Regions from separate parts of the Homo sapiens genome. Here region 1 is linked to region 2. The links come from fine-mapping of genetic effects on gene expression. A gene starts in region 2. The other region holds a variant in brackets. All regions are shown on one strand. Distances are from middle to middle.

What was found. PIP is the estimated chance that this variant, and not a neighbour inherited with it, causes the effect. A credible set is the group of variants that fine-mapping cannot tell apart.
Region 1: its variant is the best candidate, but not a certain one, in a credible set for the expression of LINC02370 in tibial nerve (GTEx, PIP 0.71).

The regions. Positions count from the first base shown.
Region 1 is chr12:131,419,131-131,424,507 of GRCh38, reverse strand. No RefSeq gene overlaps it. Among named protein-coding and RNA genes, the nearest start is that of LINC02370, 74 kb to the right of the region's middle. The variant C/T (reference allele first, on the strand shown) is at 2,126.
Region 2 is chr12:131,345,245-131,350,621 of GRCh38, reverse strand. LINC02370 (long intergenic non-protein coding RNA 2370) reads right to left here and starts at 3,152. Exons shown (of 5, transcript NR_103736.1): 1 at 2,961-3,152; 2 at 1,078-1,294. RefSeq lists enhancers at 1,718-2,262, 3,455-4,092 and a silencer at 4,634-4,858.

The sequences.
Region 1 (5,377 bases), 74 kb before region 2:
GCTTTTTTCTGTGTCTTGTAATTTTTGGTTGGAAATTGGACATCAGCATATATAATTCAAAATTAAGATAAACACTGGACAATACAAATTGAGATAAATAGTATTTATACCTGGAAATTGGCATGCCTCTTCCTTTAATAGGCCTTTTTTTGAGAGTTGAAGGATAAGTAAATCTTTTCCCTCTGCATGGAATGTAGCATTTGCTCTTCCCTCTGTCTAGAATGTTCTTCCTGATATATCCACATGTCTGATTCCTTCTCAGCTTTGAGTTCTCAGCACAAAACTTGCTTCAGTGAGAACTTCTTTGACCCTATGGAAGTGGCCTCCCCAAGTTTTTATCTATCTTTTCACTTTTTGGTTTCTTTTGTAGCAATTATCACTATCTAAAATTATATTGCTTTGCTACTCATTTTGTCATTTTACATCTGTTTTCTAAGAGAGAAGGGCCCTTATTAACTTTGATCTCCCTTGGTCAACAGTGCATGGACAGTGTCAGTGATGTAGTAGACAAAACTCTCCTGAAGCAATGAAGAAACCAGTGCACAAATGAATGAATTAAACAACTTTTTATGAGTCTAATGAAGAAACTCTGCTGGGTTTTCCTCCTTTGCTATGAAGCCTTCCTCCCTCCTCCCTGGACTGTAAGGAGGTAGTGCTCCCAAGTCATGAGGCTGAGGAAAGAATCAGATCTTCACCTGTGGCTTCCTCAATGCAGTGCTTCTTCTCCCAGTCCAGCCCTGTCTCTCTTCCTCTTTCCTACATTTGACTACTGCTTCTGCTATCTCCTCCTCAGCCCAGCGGCACCCAGAACTTGGTTGAGCAGTCCTTGTGCCCACCCTGAAGTCTGCTCACCCTGAGTGTCCACCCTAACCCCTACCACCCCAAATCCAGAGTGGTATCAGACTCACATCAGTTTTGTTGGCCCTGGGTCAATCTTACTTCCTGGTTAATAAAACAAATCTTTTTGTTTCTCTTTGGTCTTAAAAGAAATTTGACATTTGTTAACACTGAATTTAACCTTCTCTCCCAAAGCACTCTTGTAAATGCAGTGGGCATCTATTCCCAAGCCATCAACTCATGTGTGCAGAATCGCCTGGTTCCTTTATAACTGAGTATAGTCTTTCTCAACAGCCCACACATTGCCTAATGGCAGAAAAGAGTAGACTCAGTTCCAGGGGAACGGCGTCAATTTGGGGTGGTAGTGTCTTTTTAGACCATTGAGGATTTTCTCCCTTCCCTGCTCTGTTGCCTGTATGTTGCTGGTTCTCATGGGGCCAGGGTGAGATCCTCAGCCATCCCCTCTCATGCCAACACCTGCTGTTCGTGCATGTCCCATTCAGGATCTGGCTGTGCAGTACTCAGCGTGCCTGGTGTCACCTCCTCTAGCCCAGAGCAGCCATGCTGCCACATCCCTCCCTCCACTGCCTGACCTGGTCCTCTGGGGCCCAGGGTGCATCACTCCCTCGCTCACGTACTGGGAGATAAGATCCCAGTCTCTCCCGAGTCTCTGTGCCCTGAAGCCTCACCAGCCACATTTTCTCTGTGTACCCTCATCTGGCAGTGTGGGGCCCACTGTGACGTCACTGCTTACAGATTCCCAGGTAGGAAATGAACCCAAGTCCTCTTTGCTTTCAGTCACCAGATGTCTCGGGGTCATGCGTCATTTTCCATTTTAGGACTAAGAGAGAGATGGCGTTTGGTGCAGGGCCCCTTCTCGCAGACCCTCCCCGGGGTCTCTATTTCTTCTCTGATTCTTTTCTCTTCCCCCACCCAGAAATAATTTCTACCTATTTTAGGACTAGGAAAAAAAAACTGGCTTAGAAAACATTTTCCAAGAGTCTCTGCATTGCAGCATGTACTTGAAACACACGCATTCTAAGAGCAGTAATTTATTGCTTTGTTCTCTATTTTGGCTGAAGGGCTTCCTCTTGGGAGCTAAAGCCTCAACAGTGAGGACCCTAGTGGGGAAGGGTCAGGGAATAAAAGAGACAACCCAAGGCAAACATACATCAGTCAAATCTTCACAGTATTATCCTGCTGCGTGGGCATTGCTGGCCTTTTCTGGAGGGGAATCACCAGCCTTGGAGACTCTGCTCTTGAATGGCCCAGCAGCGGGCATGGGGAG[C/T]TGCCGCTCGTATCTCCAGGCCCCACTCAGAGGGACCCCGATTCACTGTCCCTATGTCAGCCTGCCACAGGGGTTTTCCTCAAATCTCCTGAGCCAGCAGGGAGGGGAGACCCCAGGAGGCTCAGTGGCAGCACAGCCTGAGCCCCCTACTGCCCACCATCAGCACACTCCCCCTTCTCCCTGTCCTCTGCCCATGAGGGATGCATGCAAGGGCACCATGAACATGCTGCACCCACAGACCACTCTGCAGGTGGCTCAGAGGGGACAGGTGGAGGAGGAGGGAGGAGGGAGATAGAGAGGAGGAGGAGAAGGAGAAGCGGGGGAGGACAGGCAGGAGAAAAAGGAGGAGGGAGAAGGAGGAGGACGTGGGAGAGGAGGGTAAGGGGAAGAGGAGAAAGCCACAGAGACCTGAGCAGGCCAGACTCCTCTGAGGGACTCATAGGAGTGAGGATGTCCCAGTGAGGCCACAAGAACAGCCATGCCTGGGCCAGGTGCCCTCCCAGACAATGTCACGGCATCATACGGCCCCCACGCATGTGTCAAAGCCCTTACCTTAAGAACAAACGATGACATTGGCTGATTAGGTCAACATGAGCTCCTGTAAAGGGTCTCAGGGAGTGTGCAGAACTGTCCTCGGGAGGGCTGGGGACCAGGGCTGGGAGGATGCACAGAGCCAGCCGGTGAGGAATCAGCCCTCGCTGCAGCTGCCGCCAGCTCCACACACACCTGGGTGCAAGGGGAGGAGGTGGGATTTCTGATCCAGCTCACATTCATATGTCTGCAAATTTGCCAAACATATGTATTTTAAAAATGCTCACTTTACCCTTGCAGAACTTAGAACACCAGGGAAAAGACTGACCTTTTCCAGGAGACCCTGACCTGGCTGGGATGACCTCTCCACCAAGGACGCAGATGGGAGAAAGAAACGGAAGTGCATTTCCATTATAGAAAGACGATTTCAAAGTCACTTTCTTGCACACGGGGTTGCAGACTGAGCTTCTTAGTTAATGTGTCTTTTACTCCGAATCAGCCATGGTGATGGAACGTGTTTTCCCAGAATTCCAGCTCTCTCTGCACAAGCTCCTGCCCAGCCTTCTGACTGGGAAGGCCCCGTGCAAATGCCTGGGAGGGAAGCAGACTGTCCTGCAGTGAATTCTGTTTAGCAGCTGCTGTTCCTGGCTGTTGAAAGGCGGTGGGATTTCCTGCTCCATGGAGGATAATTAATCTGAATAAAAAGAACGAAGGCAGGAAAGGTTACTCCAGCCCACCGTGGAGGGCCAAGGGCAGGGTTTGTCTGCACACTGCGGGGATACGTCCTCCTTTACTTAGCAGCTGCCACCAGGTCCCTGGTCACCCTTACCCTGGAGGAAATGTCCTGTAGCCCTCAGGGACACAACACGTGTGCCACCCGTGATTAAGCTTTGGCCTTTATGTCCTGTGAATTCATGCCATGTCTTGTTGTAATTAACTTTGCACAAATCTATTGATCTGAACCGTCAGTGAGTGGACAACTGCTGCATGACAGTCACTCATGTCCATTTCCCTCCTTCAACCACAACATCCCATTTCCTGCTGGGAAGAGACCTCGCAGACACTGTTCAATCCAGGTGAAAATGCCCCTCTTAACCCAAGCAGCCCCCCTCACTCGGGTCCTAAGTGAGACCCGCGTGGGCAGAGTGAGTCAGTGGGGCCCATGCACTCCAGGGAGACCCCGAACAGGCTCCGTGAGCCGCTCCTGCTTGTGGACCCCGAGCTGTCCTTTCCCAGCCAGGTGTTCCACCCTCCCCTTCGGTTTCCATTGCTTGTCACCCCAAAAGTCCTGACTGCTTTGGTCAGCCACCCCAAGAGCACCTGGATACTGGGGTCATGTTAGCGCTGCGCCAGTGAGCCATGGGGCCTGGATGGGGAATCTGGCTGCCTGAGGCTTGAGCAGAGCCCCTGGACGGGATAAACTCGCTCATCCAAGAACCATTCACTGAGCACCCATGCTGTGCCAAGCAAGCACCTGTTAAACGTGCACGTGATAATCAGAGAAAAAGCTCAATGTTAATAGTGAACTGGTGAGCGCAGAGGGCTGGTGTGGAGGGCAGTGGTGTTAGTTCACTTCTGGGTTGACCAAGGAGTTGTCCCTCATCTATCCCAAGACTTAACCCTGGAGATAATTAAACTACATGCTTAACACCTTCAGTACTGAAAGGGGTTTATTGACTTTGGGTTTATGTAAGTCACAGCTATCGATAGCAGCTGGATATCTTCATGTGTCTTATTTTATCTGATGTGGGATTTTCAGTTGGGATTGTTAAAAAAAAAAAAAAAAAGACCTGTAATCCCAGCACTTTGGGAGGCTGAGGCAGGCAGATCACAAGGTCAAGAGATCGAGACCATCCTGGCCAACATGGTGAAACCCCATCTCTACTAAAAATACAAAAATCAGCTGGGCATAGTGGCGGGCACCTGTAATCCCAGCTACTCGGGAGGCTGAGGCAGGAGAATTGCTTAAACCAAGGAGGCAGAAGTTGCAGTGAGCCAAGATTGCACCACTGCACTCCAGCCTGGTGACAGAGCGAGACTCTGTCTAAAAAAAAAAAAAAAAAAAAAAAAAACCTCAAATGAAAATGAATAAATGTCTCATTAACAATTTAATTTGAGCCTGGAGTTTCAGGACAAATTTTGTGATTGTCAGAATTTTAGATCACTCTGATGGGGAGACATTTCTGCACTGTTGATCCATACATGTGGCCTAATCTAAGTTCTCATTAACTCCTGGCTAGAAGTCTGGATGGAAGGTGTAGTGGGTTGAATCGTGGTCCCCAAAAAGATATGTCTATGTCCTAATACTGGAAGCTGTGAACGTAGTCTTATTTGGAAACAGGGTCTTTGTAGATGTAATTTAAGGATCTCAAGAAGAGATCATCCTGGATTAAGGGTGTAAATTCAGTGACTAGTGTCCTTACAAGAGAAAATCACAGGAATATTTGAAACCTGAAGACACAAGAAAGCCATGTGAAGACGTAGGCTGACATTGAAATGATGCATGTACAAGCCAAGGAACGCCAAAGGTTTCCAGCAGCCACCAGACGCTGTAGAGAGACGTGAGATGGAGGGTGCCTCAGAGCCCCTGGAAAGAACCATCCCTGCACAATCCTTGGTTTTGCACTTCTGACCTTCAGAGCTGTGAGAGAATAAATACCCACTGTTATGAGCCACTCTTTGCCCCCTAAGGAAGAGCAGCAGAGTGGGGTGTCAGGGGCT
Region 2 (5,377 bases):
CAGCCTGGGTGACAGAGCGAGACTCCGTCTCAAAAAAAAAAAAAAAAAAAAAAAAAAAAAAAAAAAAAAGAAAACCCAATTCCCCTTGAGAAAGAGAAAGAGCTGGAGTCCTTTAAAAATTAACTGCCTGTTTTTCTGTGGCTAGTGAGCCTTATCTCTCCTCCCTTCCCAGGCATTGTGAAGACCCTGTTTCCCTAGCTGTGCAGCTGCAAGGTCACCAGACAGATAAACTCAAGTCGCAAAACATGTTTTTCCTTGAAAAGTAAGAAATGATGTAATACATGTCTCAGTTGAATAACTGTCTTTGTTTCTCGCTTCTGTAATATGCTTCCCCCTGCACAGATCTCCCCCCCACAACACCCCACCCCATGAAATGCTTAAAAGGTAACTTAACTCTTTGTTCAGGGCTCAGTCATTGGAATGTTAGTCCTACTGGGCCGGTGTACCTAAATAATAAATATCCTCCTCAACCCCATCGGTCTCTGATTCCTTATCAATCCTGCTACAGTCTTAGGCAGAGTCATCAGTTGGATATAAAGTTTCTCGGTCTGTTTTTAGTGAACGTACATGGAAAACACGTACAGAACTGGAATCGTGGAATAACTCACATGTGGAATTGAATCCTAAGCACAAGTTTGGTACCAAGGTCCACACATGAGGTGGGAATCATGCAGCATGAAGTCCCCTGGGGAGTCCCACACGGACCTGCATGGTAGCCACTGCCACCTGCCCCACCAGCCCAGCACGGCCGGCTTCACCCTGATGCTTCTGCAGTTGAGCAGAAGATGATGGTGGGTATGAACTTGGAAGCTAAACGGTCTGGATTTGCATCGCTGCACTTCTATAAGCCCATCTGTAAAACAGGTTTATGTGGATTCAGTAGTTGAATATAGGAGAAGCCGTAAGAGGGATTCTCGGCACTTCATAAATTCTCGGACGATGTTGGAAATGACGGCAGCGAAGAGCACGATGATCACTGTTACAGACTACAGCTTCCCAGCTGGCAAGGTGCCCACACCCCAAGGGGCAGGAAGAAACAGAGACAGGTAGGGACAGTGTGCTCCTGCTCAGGCTCACCTTGCTGCTGCGACGCTGGTGGCCACAGTTGCTTGCAGGACCTAAGGCCACCCACAGCGTGGTGTCCAGCCTGGCTGACCTTACCCTTTTCCGAGGGACCTGAAGTAGTTGAGGGTGGTCCTGGGACATGCTTGTATATTTTAGAGGTGCAGAGTGTAGAATTTAGAAGTAAAAGGCCATCGTGATTGCAATGTACTTCGAATTAATTCCAAAAAATCTAGAGAAGAAGCAAATGCAGGAAGTTATCGGTAATTGTGACATCTGGCTGATGGTAAATGGGTGTTCTCCATACCCTTCTCCCTCCATTTCTGCATGTTTAAAATTGTCCACAATAAAAAGATGAAAACATGAATGAAAGTATCTTTTGCTAAAACAACAATATAGTGGAGATGAGGTATTATTGCATGAATACATCTACCTGCACAGATTTGAAGCAACCTCTGATTAGCCCCAAGCAGGCCCCACAGTAAATAGAGCAGGCATAATATCCTCCATTTAACAAGAGCCTCCCTGAGCCCGGGGGTCAGGTGCATCTTTGGTGAAGGTCTTTTTATGAAGCACTTGCCTGCAGCGCCTTTTTGTGAATGTCTAATCTGATGTCAGGTGGTCCCTCCAATGTCAGCCTCTGGTAGAAAAGTGCTACTCCCAGAGAAAAGCGTATTCAAAACTGCAAAATCATATCCTTTTCTGCCTCCTGCAGGGCTCTTGGCTCTTGAAAAACTGCTTAATATTTCCTAAAACCCAGGGGCTATTTTCCACTCTCCTCTCCTCTCTGCATTCCATTCAGCAATCCCGAGGGGATGTAGATGAGGATGCTGCCTGTTGTTTCCTTATTCAGGAAATTCTAAGGCATTTTCTCTACATGGAGGATTTTGAAGAGTGAATGAGAAAAGATAAACATCTTCAGAAAGAATCTCTGGGTGCTGGCAAGCAAGGAATGAGTTTTGCATTCGGGGAGGCCATTTGCCTTCAGTGTGGGGAGTCGGCAGTGTCAGAACTTGGCAGTGAACCTGAGGACGTGGACAGGAGCAGATGGGATGTTTGACTTCACCTCCCTTTTTCTCCCCGATGCATTTCAGTGCAGGTCTGCTGTGCTGCACCAGCTGCGTGGCTGAGGAGGAGACGAGGAGGAGGTTCTTGGGCACAGGAGGAACGGGGCTGGGGTGAAAGCAGCCAGCCAAGTGCGGGGGGTGCGCTCAGCGGGGGAAGCCAAAGTGCGTGGAAAAGAAGTGCTCTCCAGGACCAGCCCTGCCCACGGCCTCCTGGCCCTCAGGGGGACTCACAGACCTGACTCAACAGGCGCACACTCACACACAGGCACACATGCATGTACACAAGACACGTGTGCATATGAATGCACCCATGCACATGTGCATATGTACAGACGTGCATGGCACAGACACAGAAACATGAATCTGCACATGCACACACATGCATGCACACAGAGAGACACACGCATGCACACACATGCGTGCACAGAGAGACACACACAAGCACACGTATGCACACATGCGTATATACGTATGCATGTATACCACAAACACGCACATGCACAGATACACAAACACATTCACACACACACATGCACACATATGCATGCACACACAGAGACACACACAAGCACACATGTGCACACATGCATATATACGCATGCATGTATACCACAACCATGCACATGCACAGATACACAAACATTCACACAGACACACACATGCACACACACATGCACAGAGACAGAAGTACATGCACACACACACACATGCACAGAGGCATGCACACATGGAAGAAGCAGATACAAATGCACATATAGACACGTGTGCACACACATGCAAACACAGACTCAAAGTGTGGGAGACACCACCACCACTGCGCTGTCTGCTTACCTGTGTTTAGGGACTTTCGAGTTTTTCCACCTCTGCCACATTCTGCAAACCCCGAGAAGTGCAGCCCTTTTGGGTCATGATGGTGTCTGGTTCCCCTGCAGGAGAACATCTGGGCAGCTGTGGCGTTCGCCTTCCAGAGAGACTCCTGTCTCCTCCTACTGGGGAGGACTCACCGTGGACACCTGCAGATTGCTAAGTCATATCTCCAAGACGTTCTGGAGCCTGCTTTTCCACAACTCGAATAACTGTCGAATTTCCCACAATTCGAATAACAATAGAACGTGTCCCCATTCATTTCAGAAAGTGGAGGGCTCAGTGGAACAGCCCAGGACCTCATGTGAGGAGGAGATGGGGGCTGCTGAGGCCAGCATCAGAGCCTGGACAGGCACAATAGAATGTCCTAAAGAATTTCTGGAGACATGGCGAATTGTACTGCTGTCTAGATTTGCTCCTCCCCTGTGGCCCCAGCCCTGCTCATGCCGTTGGGTTAGGCCAGTCAGTGAGTCAATGGAACCAGTTGATTGGTTAGACGGTCCAGGTATTGGCTGCCGATGTGAGCGTGTGAGGATGGTAAAGGGCTGGCCCCCAGGTTAGGCTGGGCACACCTGATTTGAATAGATATTACACAAAATGTCCTCCAAACAGACTGCTCCTACACGCACTGCCACCAATGATATGAGGGGGACTGTCCCATCTCCCCCAGGCCCTTTTCCCTTCCCTAAAGACGGCAGAACAGGTTCTGTCTTTGCAATGATGAACCCAGACTCAGGCACCTCCAGTGGCTGAGCTCCCCAGAGAAGGCAGGGCCAGCCTCGTTCTGCACCTCCAGGCCATCCCACCATTGCAGGAGGCAGGGCAGGCATTTAGAGGAAGGGGAGGGGACACAGGGAGGACAGGAGCCGGGCCTTTCCCCCAGGGCTTCCTCCGTCCTGCTCCTGCAACAGCTTCTGGGCTCCGCTGGACCTCACCTGACCCTGCTCCCTGCACGGGGCAGCTCAGGGACCTTGACATCTGGGAAGAGAGGCTGCAGGGGAGGGGCTGGCGGGCGGCTGGGGGTCCCCGTAGTCCGGCTCTTTTCCCTCCTCACACACTGCTGTCTGCTCCCCGCTTGCCTGGCCCTGAGGCGAAGGGCCCAGGGGTCGCTGGTGAGGACGGGCTGCAGCTGGGCTGTCCTGGTGGAGGGAAGGAGATTATAAAAGGCCCTCAGAGAGCTACACAAGGTGGCCTTGTTTGGGGAACAGCCTCCCTCAAGCTCAGGGTTCCCTCCCATGTGAGCAGGAAGGGGTGGCCCAGGACCTGTGGTCAGGAGGCCTGCACTGTGTGGCTGGGGTGGGGGTCACTGCGGGTCTATTTCTAGCTCCGGCCTCTGCCCCACAGCCGGAGGCATTGGGTGAAGCCATTTGCAGCCTGAGGCATCCAGCGCCCTGGCCCTCCCTGCAGCTGTGACCTCACCAAAAACAGAGGCCACACTTCCCAGGGCGGGAGGGGCTGGAGGGCCCAGCTGTGAGGGTGAATGTGGCTGAGACCTTAGCTCCCTGGGGACCCAGGGCAGAATGAGCTTCCTCTACAACATACTGTGGCTCCCCATTGATGTGCAGAAGAGTCCATGCCCCTCCTCAGCTGGGGTTCACCAGTGTCACTACCACCCTTAGTCCTACTCCTCTACCAGCACCCCCTGCCACCTTGCCCTTCTTCTCTGGGCTGTGGCCTCATCCACCTCCATCTGTGTCCTGGTGGAGACCAGCACCCTCCTGGGGCAGGGCAGGAGGGCTTCCCTCTGTACCTCAGTGCCCAGAGTAGGACCCGGCAGGGCCCTCACCCTGCAAAGACGGGTACAGTGAGTGCAGAGGGTGAGGACGATGACACCCATCCTCGGGCACGCTGTAAGCAGCCATGCCTTCGAGCCTGAAAAGTGCTGGCCACAGTTCCCAGGTGGTCAGGATGCAGTGGAGCTGATGGCCCTGGGGAGTCAGCTCAGCCCAGCCCAGCCAGCAACAGGCTCTGCCCCGAGGCGCGAGTTCAAATCCCCTCCAGGCTCCAGCTGGGGAGGGCAGCCCACTCAGCCTCCCTGGACCTCAGGGTCCTCGTCTGTGAAATGGGAGTGAAAGTCACGGCGGGCGAGCCCGGGAGGGCTGCTGTGAGGATGAATGAGGGACCAGCTCCTGGCACGATGCACACCCCGTCCAGCCAGCACCGTCACAGGGGGTCAGCAACAAGGATGATTCCTCTTCCTCCCACCAAGGCGCAGAGGGCCTCTGAGTCACAAAGGAAAGGAACAGAGAAGACAGGCTGTGCTCCCGGTGACAAAGAGTCAGCTCTAAAGCCCAAATCCGCATTTACAGATGAGAAAACAACCACCACGGGCTGCAGGTGCTGATCCTCAAGCCTGTGATGGGCCGAGAAGCCCAGGGACTCTG